2 separate regions of the Homo sapiens genome follow, and region 2 is linked to region 1. Evidence: fine-mapped QTL for protein levels in blood plasma. A gene starts in region 1. The other region holds a variant in brackets. All regions are shown on one strand. Distances are from middle to middle. Region 1 holds the start of PLA2G15 (phospholipase A2 group XV). Region 2 overlaps CDH1 (cadherin 1).

Evidence for each region. PIP is the chance, under the fine-mapping model, that this variant and not a neighbour inherited with it causes the effect. The UK Biobank Pharma Proteomics Project read protein levels with antibody pairs (Olink). The fine-mapping took linkage between variants from a reference panel, not from the people measured, so its PIPs are less certain.
Region 2: its variant is fine-mapped to the plasma level of the PLA2G15 protein (UK Biobank, PIP above 0.99).

Annotation. Positions count from the first base shown.
Region 1 is chr16:68,241,494-68,249,821 of GRCh38, reverse strand. PLA2G15 (phospholipase A2 group XV) reads right to left here and starts at 4,449. Exons shown (of 6, transcript NM_012320.4): 1 at 4,269-4,449; 2 at 376-532. The coding sequence starts at 4,395. RefSeq lists enhancers at 3,483-3,983, 5,105-5,643 and a silencer at 4,400-4,629.
Region 2 is chr16:68,785,238-68,793,565 of GRCh38, reverse strand. The region is part of intron 2 of CDH1 (cadherin 1); the gene reads right to left. Among named protein-coding and RNA genes, the nearest start is that of CDH1, 52 kb to the right of the region's middle. RefSeq lists cis regulatory regions at 1,360, 6,751 and enhancers at 1,288-1,432, 1,567-2,136, 6,679-6,823. The variant A/G (reference allele first, on the strand shown) is at 4,624.

The DNA.
Region 1 (8,328 bases):
CTGTAATCCCAGCTACTTGGGAGGCTGAGGCACAAGAATCGCTTGAACCTGGGAGACGGAGGTTGCAGTGAGCTGAGATGGCGCCAGCCTGAGTGACACAGCAAGACTCCATCCCAAAATAAAAGAAAAAAAAAATTGTGTGTAGGCATGAGAGGCCAGGACTGGAGAGTAGAGGAACAAGGGCAGCAGGAAGGGAAAGTTAGTTCTGCCTGGGAGTGCAGAGGTGGTGCCAACCAGACCAGACCAGACCAGACCGAGGACCTGGGGAAGGAGAGAGGTCAGTGACCTCGAGATGAGGATAGAAGGAACAGACTCTGGAGGCCTCTCAGGCACTGTTGGTGAGCAGCACCCCCCTCTGTGTGCCCCAGCCCCCACCTGATATTGTCAATCCAGCAGTCAATGATGACAGGCAGCAGCAGTTCCAGGTTCAGCCAGATTGTGAAGTAGCTTTCGGTCTTCTTGGAGCAGAGGTAGTGCACCACTGTCGGCTTGTCCAGCTTGGCTTCCAGTTGGTTACCCAAATCACCAGGGACTGCAGGGGGCACAGGACATGTGTGAGCCCTCAGCCCGGCAGGTTCAAGACTCCCAAGAACTTTGATGTCTGCAGCAGACCCCCTGAAGAGCCACAGATAATATGGCAGACCTGTGCAGTTCCACATCTCAAATTAAAGCACAGTGCTGGTGGCAGGAAATTCAGAGAGCAGGGACCTTGACCCAAAGGCCAGGGAACCATCTTTGTGCAGAAAAGCTGCTACTGCTGTGTGGTGCAGAGATGCCTGTGGGGGGCTTGGGAGAGGCCTGACATGTTTGGGGAAGGGCCCTAACATTGTCTCCAACTCCAGATAAAGTAAGTCTCCTGGATTTTCACTGGAACATCCTCCTGGGCCATTCAGATTATTGGAAGGGGGTTCAGGGTGAAGTCACTCCCCACACTAGGCCTCAGTTTCCGTATCTGTTAAATGAGATCTTGGTCTGAATCACCCCCAGCAAACACAGACACACCTCTACACATGGTTTCTATGGTTAATGGACCCCGATGGGAGCTCTGCCTGGGAGGAGGGGCTTGGAGACCCCTTTGCATTCCAGAACCTCCAAAGTTTGGCCAAGGCCCTTGTCATTAGATATATACCTTCGAGGCAGGGCGCAGGGGCTCATGCCTGTAATCCCAGCACTTTGGGAGGCCGAGGTGAGTGGATCACTTGCGGTCAGGAGTTCAAGACCAGCTTGGCCAATATGGTGAAAGCCCATCTCTACTAAAAATACAAAAAATTACCTTGGTGTGGTGGCACACACCTGTAATCCCAGCTACTCAGGAGCCTAAGACAGGAGAATTGCTTGAACCCGGGAGGCAGAGGTTGCAGTGAGCCAAAATCGTGCCATTGCCCTCCAGCCTGGGTGACAGAGCAAGACCCGGTCTCAAAAAAAAAAAAAGATATATACCCTGGAGGCTTGAACCCAAAAGTCTTCCACCCATAGCTATCCCAGGCTACATAGAAGACAGGGTCCTGTTCGCCCTGAGAGAGGAAGAAGGAAACAGAACAGAGCCCTGGGCCACTCAGCTAAAATTCAACCAGACAAAGTATGCAGGACAGGCTGGTGGGAGGGAAATGAACAGAAACACAGCTGAGAGAAGCTTACATTGGCACCCGCCAGCCTACCAAGGGCCCAGGCCTTACTAAAGGCCAGAGTCCAGTAAGGTGCCAGAGAGCAGATCATCTGGAGGGCCCTAGCATGGCTGGGAGCCCGTATTGGAAACAGCCACCCTGAACCAGCACCATTATCACCACAGTCCAGGCCCTAGGGTGACTTCTCTCCATCCCAGCCATCCTATTCAGTGTACTCAGAACTCTGGGGCCCTGGTGACACCCAAATCCCTCCCCACTGCGTCAAAGCCCTTCACAGTCTCGTTACTCCCATTGACCTTTCGGGCCTCACCTGCCCCCACATGCCATGCTCTCGCCACTTCCCAAACACATCCCCGTTTAGGGTCCATGATCATTGAGTGAAAAACCAGCACTTGGCTCTCCTGGACATTCACTGGGAACTGACCGTAAATCCACCCTGAACAGGGCGTGCCCTCCCTGGGCACCATCCCAGTGTCTTCAGGGTGCCATGAGAGGCAGGGGCGGCACATGCCTTCACCTCCCTTCATGGTATGGGTGCAGAGGGAGGGAGTCCCTGTCATGACAGCCTCTGGATGACATGCCTGTGGACTGGGCAGGGCAGGGCAGAGACCCTGGTCACTGTCTCTACCAAAGGGGAAATGGTAAAAGAGGAAGTCACCAGATCTGCTTTGCTCAGATGCTCCTTACCCTGGTCAGGCTGTGTGGCCCCTAAAAATAGCAGTGGCCACTTCCTGAGCCCATCTGCGCCTGGAACTAGGAAAAGAGCCATCCACATGCCTTTCACCTCAAGTAACACTGGGAGGGGACAGCCTTACTATTTCCACTTAACAGATGGGGAGACTGAGGCTGCAAGAGGTGGAAATGGCCTTGCCTATGGTCCCTTCCCCTTGCCCAGGGTCTTCTGTATCACATCGCTGGTCTCTCTTTCCTCCACCACCATTTCAGGATCCACCCCTAGAGGATTCTGATCTTCTGACAGTCAAGGTCAGATCCCTGCTCTGTGCCCAGGAGCTGCTTATCCAACTGCCCACCGTGAGGTCTCCCAGGGCTAAGGCCAGCAGCCTCACTCCCTGAGAAGCTGGGCATGTTAGGACTCCTGCTGCTCTGTGATTCTGGGTGGGGTCTGAGGCTCTTCTGCTGTGACCAAGGATAAACAGACTGACTGAATTGATGAGTGCGGTTAGCATCAATCCAGGCAAAATGGCTATGTGCCATTTTGTGTGCCACAGACCACATGCTTCCTAATGCCACGCCCCTCAGACTTAGAACTCTGCAGGCCAACCCAGGACTCCCTGAGGCCCTCAAGATAAAGTTCAGATGACCCAACCAGTCACAAGTCCTGTGCAGTCCACTCCTCCTGTGACTCGATCCCAGGCAGCCTGAGATGCTCACGTCTCTCCCCGACCCATTACTCTCTCCTGGCCTTAGCTCCAGCTATATACTCCAGGAAGCCTTACTTGACACCCACCCATCCAGGCTGGGTTGGTGGATTCTCTGTGCTTGCCCCACACAGACTTCCTCTCTGGGGATCACTGTTATTCCTATCCTGCAAGCTTTGGGGAGGCAGGGCCAAGTCTGCCCAAATCCCATGGTGAACCTGGGCCTAGTATCCCCCTGGAGCTTTTCCTGGCTGGGAACTCCTGGTGGGGCCTGCCTGGCACCACCCTACCTGCCAACTCTACCCTTCTGTGATTTGCATCGTCCCCATTTAAAGTACTCTCAGCAGAAAGAGCATGGAGATCATGCTGCACTAGACTCCACGTGTAATTCATGCCTCAGATGCCTCTGCTTTCAGGAATCCTGGCTGGCCACGGACACACCAGCTCTGGATGGGAGTGACGGCCTCAATGAGGCACCCAAGGCCCCCCAGACAGAGGTCTCATCCCTGCCCATCCCTGCAAGGAAATACAGTGGCCGTTGTAGAGTTGCCAGGGTTGTGATCAAGGAGCGGGGTGAGCAGGGGAGGTCACCGAGCCTCCACATAGTCTAGTCCAAGCATGTGTGGCAGGGTAAGAGTACAAGCATGTTGCCTGACACAGGTTCATGGCCATTGTCCCAACCCTTTCCCCTGACTTCAGTTGTCTTCAGTTTCCCTTAGGCCTTTTCCCTCAGGCAATGCCACACATCTGATAAGTTGTGGGAGTTGGTGGCCAGCTAGGACAGCAATCCTTTCCCTAAGGAGGTTCCTTTCAGCAATGCCTTCTGGCATATGTGGCATTGGAGGGGTCGAGGGTGACAGCCTCCTAACCAGGCCCAGGTCGATGCAGAAGTCAACTCAGGAGCCACTCTACACACCCCCACCATCCCTCAGGAGTGGGGCTGAAGCACCTGTCTTTCCAGCTTAAAAATGGGATAAGGGGAGGCAAGGCTTGGGAATGATGCGGACAGGTGGAACTATGAATAACCAGATGGTAACTCTCCCACTCACCCCCATTTTCTACCAGGACAGGAGGTGGGGAGCTGACCACACCCGCGCCCAGCATGGCGGGAGGTGAGCCGGCAGATCTAGATCACCTAAGTGACAAGACAGATACCAATACGCTCCCCCATTTCGTGACTGGAACAGAAGCAGACCGGGAAGGCAGCCCCGCCCGCGGCCCGTCCCGCCCGACCGACAGATCCACCACGAGACCCGTGCCTCACCCAGCACCACTGGGGGGTGACGTCCGGCCGGGAGCGCTGGGTCCGCGAGCAGCATTAGCAGCAGCAAGAGGAACAGGAGGCCATCCGGGAGCAGCCCCACACGGTAGGGGCGGAGGTGGAGGCCCATGGTGTACGACGGTCGCCGCAGGTCCGGGATGCAGGTTCAGCTCTCTGGGCTCTCGCCTAGGCGGGGGCGGTGGCGACGCGCTTAACCCCGCCGCCCGCATCCCCCGCATCCCCCCGGCCAATCAGGGCCCGCCTCCCGCAAATGGCTGGCCAATAGGGACTCGCCGCCATATACGCCCCTCCCAGTCGGAGGTCGCCGCCCCGCCCTTGCCCAACCCCCTGCTTCCTGGACCACGCTGAGCGCCGAGCGCATCGATGGATCGAGGTATCGCCTGGCTCCGGGCTGTCAGTCGCCCACCCGGGAACCCAGCTCGCCGCTGCTGTACCCCGCCCAGCCCTGGGTACCCGAAATCCACGCTGCGCAGCTCTCACTTGGCGACCCCCTGACCTGGAGGATCTGGAACGGACAAGACCGGGAGAGGATAAGGGGTGCAGCGCTGGCCGCTGCTGAGCGACCCCGGTTAAAGCAAGAAGAGAGGAAGTGAGTCCCGGACAGTTCTTGGGCCTCAGGTGACCAGGAGCTGACCAGGACCTTTGTGCAGCCCCCACACCAATTCTTAGCACACCCTGCCCCGAGGGCACCTGGGTGCGGCCAGTCAGCCCCTGTAACTCTGCCCCGGGGTTACAGATGCGGGGGGAACCGGGAGAGGCCAGGTCAGCATGTTCAGTTCCCAAGAGAGGGGTTAATCTGTTCGTTTTAGGGGCGCAGAGTGCAGCGTCACCCCGCCAGTCCGGGCAGTTCGGGCGCGGGGTTGGGAGTGGGCTTGAGTCTCGACCCTGCGCCATGGGCCATCTGCAAGTTCCCCTGCAGAGCAGGAGAGGCATCGGGAGCTCGTGGTCCCCCTCCACTCTCGCAAACCTGGGGAACCAGAGAGGACATGGACTCCCTGCGCCAGGAAGCAGGGGCGAACAGAGTGGGCAAAGACCTGACAGCTGGTTATATGCCAGCACCATAGGTCACTGTGGGATAGAGGGACGAGAGTATTTGGGAAATAGAGGTCTTGATCCTCCACACACCCACCCCTTCGAAGGGGCAGCTGCACCCTGGTCATCCCACCTGGTCCCAAGAAATTTGTCCTGCCCCTTCCTTCCTTCTTCTTGGTAAGCAGCTGACCTGGCTATGAAGCCACTATCTTGCCCTGCCCTTCTCGAGTTCTTATAGTGAAACATGTTGGTGACTGGGCTACCACCACCCTCCCTCTTTCTTTTTTCTTTTTCTTTTTCTTTTTTTTTTTTTTTTTGAGACAGAGTTTCGCTCTTGTTGCCCAGGCTGGAGTGCAATGGTGCAATCTTGGCTCACCGTAACCTCCGTCTCCCGGATTCAAGCAATTCTCCTGCCTCAGCCTCCCGAGTAGCTGGGATTGCAGGCATGCGCCACCACCCTGGCTAATTTTGTATTTTTAGTAGAGACGGGGTTTCTCCATGTTAGTCAGGCTGGTCTTGAACTCCCAACCTCAGGTGATCCACCTGCCTCGGCCTCCCAAAGTGCTGGGATTACAGGCGTGAGCTACTGTGCCCGGCCCCTTTTTCTTTTCTTTCCTTTTTTTTTTTTTTTTTTTTTTTTTTTTGAGAAAGGGTCTCTCTGTCACCCAAGTGCAGTAGCACAATCACGGCTCACTGCATCCTTGACCTCTCAGGCTCAAGCAATCCTTCCCACCTCAGCCTCCTGAGTAGCTGGGACTACAAGTGTACACCTCCAAGCTCAGCTAGTTTTTTATTTTTTGTAGAGTTGGGGTCTCACTATGTTGCCCAGGCCAGTCTTGAACTCCTGGCCTTAAGTGATCCACCTGCCTCAGCCTCCCAAAGTGCTGAGATTACAGATGTGTGCCACTGTGACCAGCCCCACCCTCTCTTAAGGTCCAGCCATCTCCCGCTAAGGCCCTGGCTCAGAACTCCCACTCCCAAAGCCCCTGCCTCCCCCACCTTCACCCGTGACCCAACAGAAGATCAGTGAAGACCCATCTGGTGAAAACCCAGCGTGGGAGACCAGAGACTCTTCTGCAGGCCTAGGGACGGGCAGAAGTCCAGTCAAAGGTTATGTGGAGGAAGAGAAGGATCAAGAGGTGCTGGGCCACCTTGGACTCTGGCCACAGTCTAAATGTCTTGCCAGCCCAGCAGCATCCGGTGACCATGGGCCCCTGGAAGGGTAGCCCTGTCCTCAAGAGGGGTTCCTTGGTGCTTCAACCCCACAGGCCCTGCATGTGTTAGGAACCACAGCCATTAGGGGCAGGATGGCAAGGCCTGGTCAGCAATGACCCATGCTGGCACTGTGGAGAAGGGTCAGAAAGTGAGGGTCCTCCCTTTTCACAATGACTCTGCCATCCACCTGATCCCCCAGGCTGCAGACTTGGCATCATCCTGAGCTCTGGATGCTTCCATGCTTCTCAGAACCACAACTCAGGTGGTCATAAGGGCTTGCCAGCTCTACACTCCCCAAACCACACTACCCTATTCCCACAACAGCCTCGTCACTGATGTCCCAATGCACGCCCTCGTTCCTGTGGGTCGTTCTCCACATGCCAGGCTGACACCTTTTTTTTTTTTTTTTTGAGACAGAGTTTTGCTCTGTCACCCAGGCTGGAGAGCAGTGGCGTGATCCCGGCTCACTGCAACCTCTGCCTCCTGGGTTCAAGCGATTCTCCTGCCTCAGCCTCCTGAATAGCTGGGATTACAGGCACCCGCCACCACGCCCAGCTGATTTTTGTATTTTTTAGTAGAGACGGGATTTCGCCATGTTGGCCAGGCTGGTCTTGAACTCCTGACCTCAGGTGATCCACCCACCTAGGTCTCCCAAAGTGCTGGGATTACAGGTATGAGCCATCACACCCGGCCCTGATTTTTTTTTTTTAATATTGCTCAAATTACTATCTCAAATTGTATGGTTTGCCCTACAAACCATAAATTCTCATTAGATGGGTTTTATTTAATCCTATATATCGGAACTTACTTTGCAATCTGACTCTGGCATAACATTAGGTGACAAGAAAGTCAAAATATTCCAAAACAATGTTTCTTTGCCATACTTGGAAATGGTCCTGCAAAACTGTCCTTTGTGGAGGAAATTTTGCATCTGTAAAGAATCTCTATTAACATAGCTAGATTTTCTTCCAGGCCCTCCCAAACCTGAAGAGATTAAGAGTTTAGCACCTTTCACAGGTCTGAATAGGGCCGGGCACAGTGGTTCACGCCTGTAATCCCAACACTTTGGGAGGCCGAGGTGGGTGGATCCCCTGAGGTCAGGAGTTTGAGACTAGCCTAGCCAATAAGGCGAAACCCATCTCTATAAAAATAGAAAAATTAGCTGGCCGTGGTGGCGGGCACATGTAGTCCCAGCTACTCGGGAGGCTGAGGCAGGAGAATCACTTGAACCCGGGAGGCGGAGGTTGCAGTGAGCCAAGATCATGTCACTGCACTCCAGCCTGGGAGACAGAGCAAGACTCCATCCAAAAAAAGCGTCCAGGCTGGGCATGGTGGCTCACACCTGTAATCCCAGCACTTTGGGAGGCCGAGGCGGGCGGATCATGAGGTCAGGAGATCGAGACCATCCTGGCTAACACAATGAAACCCTGTCTCCACTAAAAATACGAAAAATTAGCCAGGCGTGGTGGCAGGTGCCTGTAGTCCCAGCTACTCGGGAGGCTGAGGCAGGAGAATGGCGTGAACCTGGGAGGCGGAGCTTGCAGCGAGCCGAGATCGCGCCACTGCATGCTAGCCTGGGTGACAGAACGAGACTCTTGTCTCAAAAAAAAAAAAAAAGTGTCCAAATATTTTACAGAGTTTGACTCTTTTCATCAACAGAATAAATCCAGAGACTTAGGAGCCAGTCTAGTTGTGCTATCTTCCTTGGGTGAGCACACAGCCAACACCCTTCGCCCCTCCTGCTACCTGGCCCTTTGCACTCCCTCTCGCTGGCCTAAGCTCCAAGCTCCCCTAC
Region 2 (8,328 bases), 540 kb before region 1:
CAAGTTCCATAGCTATGAAGTGACGGAAGCTGTAGTCTGATGCTACTTAGCCGCCAGGACTCACCAGGCAGCCTGTCTGTTAGTACTGATGAGCCATTCACAAGCCTGCTAGCTGAATGGATCTGAGAAGTTAGTTCTCACAAAAGAATAGGACAGTTGGAGAGTAACTTGAATGAGAATAACGGCAAAAGCATCATTATACACACTCCCTCTCTTCTTGGATGAAAATTGAGCCTTGGAAATCCAGTTCCAGGCCTCAGAGAAACCTAAGGATATTCCAACAGCCACACTATACTCCAGTTTCAAAAAGGTCTCGCTGTATGTTACCACTTTGCATAAGCTGAAATAAGTCAAAGTTCCTCTAAACTGCCAACGTCAACCACAACATTTTTCCAGGGAAGATAAGCAGGTTGGAGTATCACGTTGCACAAGCATGACTCTTAACGTGCCCACAACATCCATGCAATGTGCTCTCAGGGTGGCAGCTGCGGCTCCTGCACCCCTGTTGACAGGCGACCCCCATGGGTTCCCAGGGACTGGAAGTTTATTTGCATGAAGCTTATCAAGTTCCTTCTAACGTCCCCCAAACATATGTGCCCAGAACAAATTATGTATCGTCTCTGTCTTCACTGAGCTACACCCTGAAAACAGATGTCAACAACGAACGCTGCCTGGATGGGAAGCAGGGAGCAAAGTCCCCTTGGCTTCTGTCCCCATCAAAGCAGACGGGGGTGGAGAGAGAAAACAGTGACATTGAAGATTAAGGAAAAATTAGCCCAGGACCCTTTACCCTTTACTTTCTGAAGTGGGAGAAACAAGGCTAAAGGTGTAAGCCATCGCCCTTGACTTTTTCCCTTTGTTTAAGATTACTCAAGCGACTTGGTCACACTGGCAAAGGGTGTCTTTTTGCTTTCCCAACCATGGTTCTGCTTGGACAAATGCTGTTTCCTTCTCTGACGGCAAACGCCATGGGTGTTGATCAGAACCAGCCCGGGGGGAAGGGTCATGAATGGCGCTTCTGGAATTGATTAAAAGTCAGTGTCGCAGGGCGTACTGGCTCACGCCTATAATCCCAGCCCTTTGGGAGGTGGGTGGAACACTTGAGGTCAGGAGTTCAAGACCAGCCTGGTCCACATGGTGAAACTCTGTCTCTACCAAAAATACAAAAATTAGCCAGGCGTGGTGGCGCATGCCTGTAATCCCAGCTACTCGGGAGGCTGAGGCAGGAGAATTGCTTGAACCTGGGAGGCGGAGGTTGCAGTGAGTCAAGATTGCGCCACTGCCCTCCAGCCTGGGCGACAGAGCAAGACTCCATCTCAAAAAAAAAAAAAAAAGTCAGTGTTTAGGCCGGGTGTGGTGCCTCATGCCTGTAATCACAGCACTTTGGGAGGCTGAGGCAGATGGATCACCTGAGGTCAGGAGTTTGAGACCAGCCTGACCAACATGGTGAAACCCAATCTCTACAAAAATTCAAAATTTAAGCTGGGCATGGTGGTGGGCACCTGTAATCTCAGCCACTTGGGAGAGTAAGGCAGGAGAATTGCTTGAACCTGGGAGGTGGAGGTTGCAGTGAGCTGAGATCACGCCACTGCACTCCAGCCTGGGCAACAGAGAGAGACTCCATCTCAAAAAAATAAACAAACAAAATACATAGGCAGACGTCCCCACCTCCTTTGAGGGATTGCTTCAAGGATTCTTCCTCCAGTAAATCTTTAGCGAGCCCTTACTCTCTTTGTCAAGCATCATCCTAAGGCCTGAGAAATACAGCAATGGACAAAGCAAAGTCCCTGACCTCATGGGGCTTTCATTTCAATGTCAAAGAGATAATTAACAAGTAAATCAATAAGTAATCATGGTGGCTCATGCCTGTAATCCCAGCACTTTGGGAGGCCGAGGTGAGAGGATCACTTGGGCCCAGGAATTCAAGACTAGCCTGAGCAACATGGCAAGACCCCAACTCTACAAAAAATTAAAAATTAGCTGGGTGTGGTGGCGCGTGTCTATAGTCCCAGCTATTTAGGAGGCTGAGGCAGGAGGATCACCTGAGCACAGGAGGTCGAGGCTGCAGTGAGCTGTAACTGTGCCACTGCACTCCAGCCTGGGCGACAGATTGAGATGCTATCTCCAAAAAGAAAGAAAACGAAAAAAAGTATCAGGAATGAAAAGTGTAATAGAGAAATATAAGCAGGTAAGGAATTTCCAAGGGCTTTATGTGACAGGCAGGACAACTCACTAAATAAAGGACATTAGGGAATATTAGGGCATATTAGGGAATAAAGGGAAGTGAAAGAGACTGCCCCAGCTTGGAGCTGTGTGCTGAAGTAAGGGAGAGAGCAGGCGGCAGTGCGGGGGAACAGTTCCAAGGTCTACTCAAAGCCTGCACACCTACTGTGTGCATACCTCCTGCATGGGGGCAGCCTGTTCTAGTACTGAAGATCCAGCCACAATCACAACAGATAACCACTCCTGCCCACCCGGGGGCCAACATTCAAGTGGAATTAACATGATTTTAGCACAGGCCTATGAGAAAGGTTAGCTCTTGCTCCTGCGGGCCAGATTGCCTCATTGCCTCCCCATACCCCATACCCTTCTTGACAACAAGGCCAGAAGGGAACTTAGTTTTAAATCATTTTTCTTTCCAGGCCTCTCCCAGAGAGGACAGCAACAGCCAGTGTGCCCATTGATTAACAGCCTCACTCAGTTTCATCTCAATATTCCTGCCTGGATTGGTATCTGCTGCCTTGACTGGAGAAGCTGGGGTTGCTTCTCTGCTCAAGTCAAAACCAACTGCTTGGTTTCAATTTTCCAGAGTCAACACCAACTGGCAAGGAATCTCATCTCAATTTGTTTTCAAGAAGAGGGGAGAAAAACAACTCATCTCCATTCTAGCAAGGAGTTGGCAGCGACATTAGGCCTCCTGCAGAGGCGGAGGCTGGAGGGGGACTGCTTCCCCACCTGTCTTAGGGAGGGAAATGCGTTTGATTTTCTCAAAAAGAATAAGGAGAATGGGGAGGCCCTCTGGGTTCACAGCAAATTGGAGGGGCTTTCTTGTCCCAGCTGTGGCTGCATGCGTAACAACACAGCCTGTCTGCCGAAACAGAGGCCGTAACTGATCATTTTCATGGACTGCAACCCAGGAAACATTCCTGTGGTCAGGTTGGGCAACTCTAGGAACTGTTTGCTTACTGATTAAAAAGAAAATCATCACATTTTCTTCCTCCTTTTTCTTTCTGTTGGATTCCCCGAGGTTAGGGAGACCCCATGTACTGAATTCCAAAGCTACTAAATCCCTCCTCCTCTCTCTCCCTGATGCCCCGTGCAGGAAAGGGCAGCTGACAGGCCTGAGATGTGGGAGAACAAGTCCTGGGCCCTCACAGACATTGGTAAGGCTTACATTCCGACTGGTGAAATAAAGCATGCACCAAAATGCCTCCTAACATCATTTCCATTCAGGGTCTAATGTGCTGCACAGAGACTTTCCTGGGTTTTTTGTTTTTGTTTTTGTTTTTGAGATGGAGTTTTGCTCTTGTTGCCCAGGCTGGAGTGCAATGGTGTGATCTTGGCTCACGGCAACCTCTGCCTCCCGGGTTCAAGTGATTCTCCTGCCTCAGCCTCCCGAGTAGATGGGATTACAGGCATGCGCCACCATGCCCGGTTAATTTTGTAGTTTTAGAGATGGGGTTTCTCCATGTTGGTCGGGCAGGTCTCGAACTCCCAACATCATGTGATCCGCCCGCCTCAGCCTCCCAAAGTGCTGGGATTACAGGCATGAGCCACCGGGCCCAGCCTCCTGGGGCACTTTTTAAAAATACTCAGCCAGGGCCCCTGCCTCAGACTAACTGAATCCAGATGTCCAGGGCTGGGGCAGTAGCAACTAAGGAGTGAGGGATTTCTTCTGGAGGTGATGAAAATGTTATGAAATTGATTGTGGTGACGCTTGCTTAAGTCTGTGACTATAAGGGAAACTGTTAAATTCTACACTTTAAATGGTGTAATATATGCTATGTGGATTATGTTTCGATAAAGCTGTTACAAAAAAAAAAAAAAGATGAGCCAATCGCACAAAGTATTCACAAGCCCATCCTTGCAGAGAGACCACTGCTAACACCTGATATGTGTCCTTCAGATCCTGGTCTATATCCCTTTCCTAATTCATTTACTCCCTTGTCCTGCATCCCTTTACATCCTGTTCTCCAAAATTAGGTTCTGGACATTATTCTATTTTTAAACACCTGGCCAGGTGCGGTGGCTCACACCTATAATCCCAGCACTTTGGGGAGGCTGAAGTGGGCGGATCACTTGAGTCCAAGTCCCGTCAAGACCAGCCTGGGCAACATGGGGAGAGCCCATCTCTACAAAAAATACAAAAAAAAATTAGCTGGGCATGGTGGCATGCACCTGTAGTCCCCATTATTTGGGAGGGCTGAGGTAGGAGGATCACTTGAGCTGGGGACGTCAAGGCTGCAGAGAATCATGTTCGGGCCACTGCACTCCAGCTTGGGTGACACAGTGAGAACGGATCTTCCTGTCCAACTTTCTTTTATTTATTCATTCATTTTTTGAGACAGAGTCTTGCTCTGTCACCCAGGCTGGAGTGCAGTGGCATGACCTCAGATTACCGCA[A/G]CCTCCGCCTCCTGCGTTCAAGTGACTCTCCTGCCTCAGCCTCCCAAGCAGCTGGGATTACAGGTGCCCGCCACCATACCCAGCTAATTTTTGTTTTTTGTTTTTTTTAGGAGAGATGGGGTTTCTCCATGTTGGTCAGGCTGGTCTTGAACTCCTGATCTTGTGATCCACCCGTCTCGGCCTCCAAAAGTGTTGAGATTACAGGCGTGAGCCACCATGCCCAGCCCCAACTTTCTTCTTATTTCACATTTACCCATTTAAAAAAATGTGTAAATGTGGCTTATATACAGTCAACCCAAAAAGTAATTAGGATGGGTAAAATATGGTATAGCTACTCAGCAATAAAAAGGATCAAACATCACAAAACGCAGTAGCATAGATGAACCTTAAAAGCATTACACCGAGTGAAAGAAGCTGTTCACCAAAGTACACAGTTCATATGAAAAATCTAGAAAACTAGAGACAAAAAGCAGATCAAGGGTTGTCTGGAGCTGAGTTAGGCTTGACTACCAATAGGCCCAAGGGAACTTGGGAGGTGGTGGAAGTATTCTAAAACTGGATTGTGATGACAGCTCAACAGCTGTGTACGTTTATAAAAATTATCTAACTGTACACTTACAGTGGGTAAATTGTGTGGTATGTAAATTAAATCTCAATGAACCAGTAAGAAATATATAGCTATTAGGGTCTCTTGAGGAATACCCCATCAGTCAAAGTCCTATGGTTCAAAAATGAAAGAATCCAGGCACCCAAAAATGCCAAGGTTATGAAAAAGTGCAGAGAAGAGAAGCCATAAACAATTCTTAATTAACAGTAGGCTGGGTGCGGTGGCTCACACCTGTAATCCCAGCACTTTGGGAGGCCAAGGAGGGCGAATCACTTGAGGTCAGGAGTTTAAGACAGGCCTGGCCAACATGGTGAAACCTCGTCTCTACTAAAAATACAAAAAATTAGCGGGGCGTGGTGGCACATGCCTATAATCCCAGCTATTCAGGAGGCTGAGGCAGGAGAATTGCTTGAACCCAGGAGGCGGAGGTTGCGGTGAGCCAAGATCATGCCATTGTACTCCAGCCTGGGCAACAAGAGTGAAACTGTCTCAAAAAAAAAAAAAAAAAAATTAGCCGGGCGTGGTGGTGGGTGTCTATAATCCCAGCTACTTGGGAGGCTGAAGTGGGAGAACTGCTTGAACCCAGGAGGCAGAGGTTGCAGTGAGCTGAGATTGCACCATTGCACTCCAGCCTGGATGATAAAGCAAGACTCTATCTCCAAAAAACAAAACAAAACAAAACAATAGTTATAGGCTGGGCATGGTGGTTCACACCTGTAATCCCAGCACTTTGGGAGGCTGAGGTGGGAGGATCACTTGAGGCCAGGAGTTTGAGACCAGCCTGGGCAACATAGTAGGATCCCATCTCTATTTAAAAAAAAAAAAAATCAACAACTAAAAACTGAAAACAAAAAATCTTTTTGAGAGTAAATATTCACTATGACAGTCATTACGTGTGGGCACTGTGAACTTTACATTGACTCCTATGTTGCTGTGAGGCAGGTAGGGGTTTTTAACCCCCTTAATGCTGATGAGCAACTGAGGCGAAAGGCTTAAGTCATTTGCTCAAGGTCAGGGCCTTGTCAAGGTCACAGAGCAGGTCAGCCTCTGAAGGAACATTCGCCCCAGAACCAGCCAGCACCAAAGCTTCTGTTCTTCAGCACTAGGCTTGCGGAGGGAGAGAAATTCCAGGGGTAGTTAACAGCAATGTGGGATGGGTAAAAGTAACCACAGATTTATTCTCTATAAAAAACACAACCCAGATATAAACACGCATCAATCTAGGGCCACATTTTCCAAGCACTGGCTGACACCAAAATGTGCTGAATCTGGCTGCAAAAACACAGGAAAGCCGTTGTGGAATTCAGAACCTTTGAATCATTCAATAACTCAAGAACAAGATCTGGAAACCTTCTACAAAGAATGAATGTGAGGCTTGCACTACTTTCAAATGTGGGCTGTGCTGGAAAGGCTCGGACCCTCTGCCTCTGACCTTTGGAACAAAACTCAAACAGCCCAAGAGAACAGCTGGGAGCCAACACTGCGAAGTGAGGCATTTCCCACAGTCTCCAGGTCACATGTGCTTGCAGATGACTGTACAACAAGTGCTCACTTGTCCAATAGAGCTCACAAGAGGATGCCTTTTCTCTTTTAATGGATGCTAGCATCATTTTTCATTATCAAGAACAAATAAGCATTGATGGGAAAGGCAGCTGCTTCCAAGAGCATTTGCTGAATCTACTCTGGCTGCCTGGAAAGGTAACTGCTCAGACTATATGTGTGCCTTGGCTCAGGCTCCTGAGAAATGAAGCCTACAACCCATGCTGCATCCTCCTGAATACCAAAAAAAAAAAAAAAAAAAGAAAAAAAAAAAAAGAAAGCAGAAAGATCTCAGACTGGGGGGCTCACTTCAAGAATTCCAAGTAGGGTCAGGTGCAGGCTCAACCCTGTAATCCCCGCACTTTGGGAGGCCAAGGCATGTGGATCGCCAGAGATCAGGGGTTCGAGACCAGCCTGACCATCATGGTGAAACCCTGTCTCTACTAAAAATACAAAAACAAGCCAGGCATGGTGGCGGGCACCTGTAATCCCAGCTACTTGGGAGGCTGAGGCAGGAGAATCGCTTGAACCCAGGATGAAGAGGTTGCAGTGAGCCAATATCGCATCACTGCACTCCGGCCTGGGCGACAGAGCAAGACTCTGTCTCAAATTTGAAAAAAAAAGAATTCCAAGTAGGCAAAAATAATAAGAAAAGAAAAGAGCATGAAGAAGAGTGACCCACAGGTGCCAGAATCTGACTCTGGCATACACTGGAGAACAGCCACAGGTCACTCACAAGATGCTGTGGTACTGTTGCTACCACCACAAGGAGATGGGGCACCTGTTCCAGCAGTGGTTCTCCAGCCTTTTATTTTCCTGGTTGCTGCTCTTGCAGAAATGCTCCATGGGCCATTTACCTGGACTGTTCCCATTTTCCGATGTGAAACTGGAAAGCTTGCACACAAAAATGACGTATGTAAAAGGTTATTCACTAAGGCATTGTTTGTGCTAGCAAAACATGGGCGACAGCCCAAATAGCCATCAATAGAGGATTAGTTTAAATCAATTATAGAATTTCCTTACAATGAAATACTATGAACCTATTAAAAAAAAAAAAGCTCTTTATGCTCTGCAGGGGAATGATCGTCAAGACACATTATTGTTTGCTGATAAAAGCAAGTGCAAAGCAGTGCTATCTTTTGTGTAACTAAAAAGAAGGGGATAAGAAATAAGTTTATCCCTGTAATCCCAGCATTTTGGGAGGCTGAGGTGGGAGGATCACTTAAACCCAGGAGTTTGAGTCTGCAGTGAGCCACGACTGCACAACAGCACTCCAGCCTGAGCCACAGAACAAGACTCTGTCTTGGTCAGGCATAGTGGCTCACGCCTATAATCCCAGCACTTTGGGAAGCTGAGGTGGGTGGATCGCTTGAGGTCAGGAGTTGGAGACCAGCCTGGCCAACATGGTAAAACCGTGTCTCTACTAAAAATACAAAACTTAGCTGGGCATGGTAGTGCATGCCTGTAGTCTCAGCTTCTTGGGAGGCTGAGGGAGGAGAATCGCTTGATTCTGGGAGGCAGAGGTTGCAGTGAGCCGAGATCGCGCCACTGTACTCCAG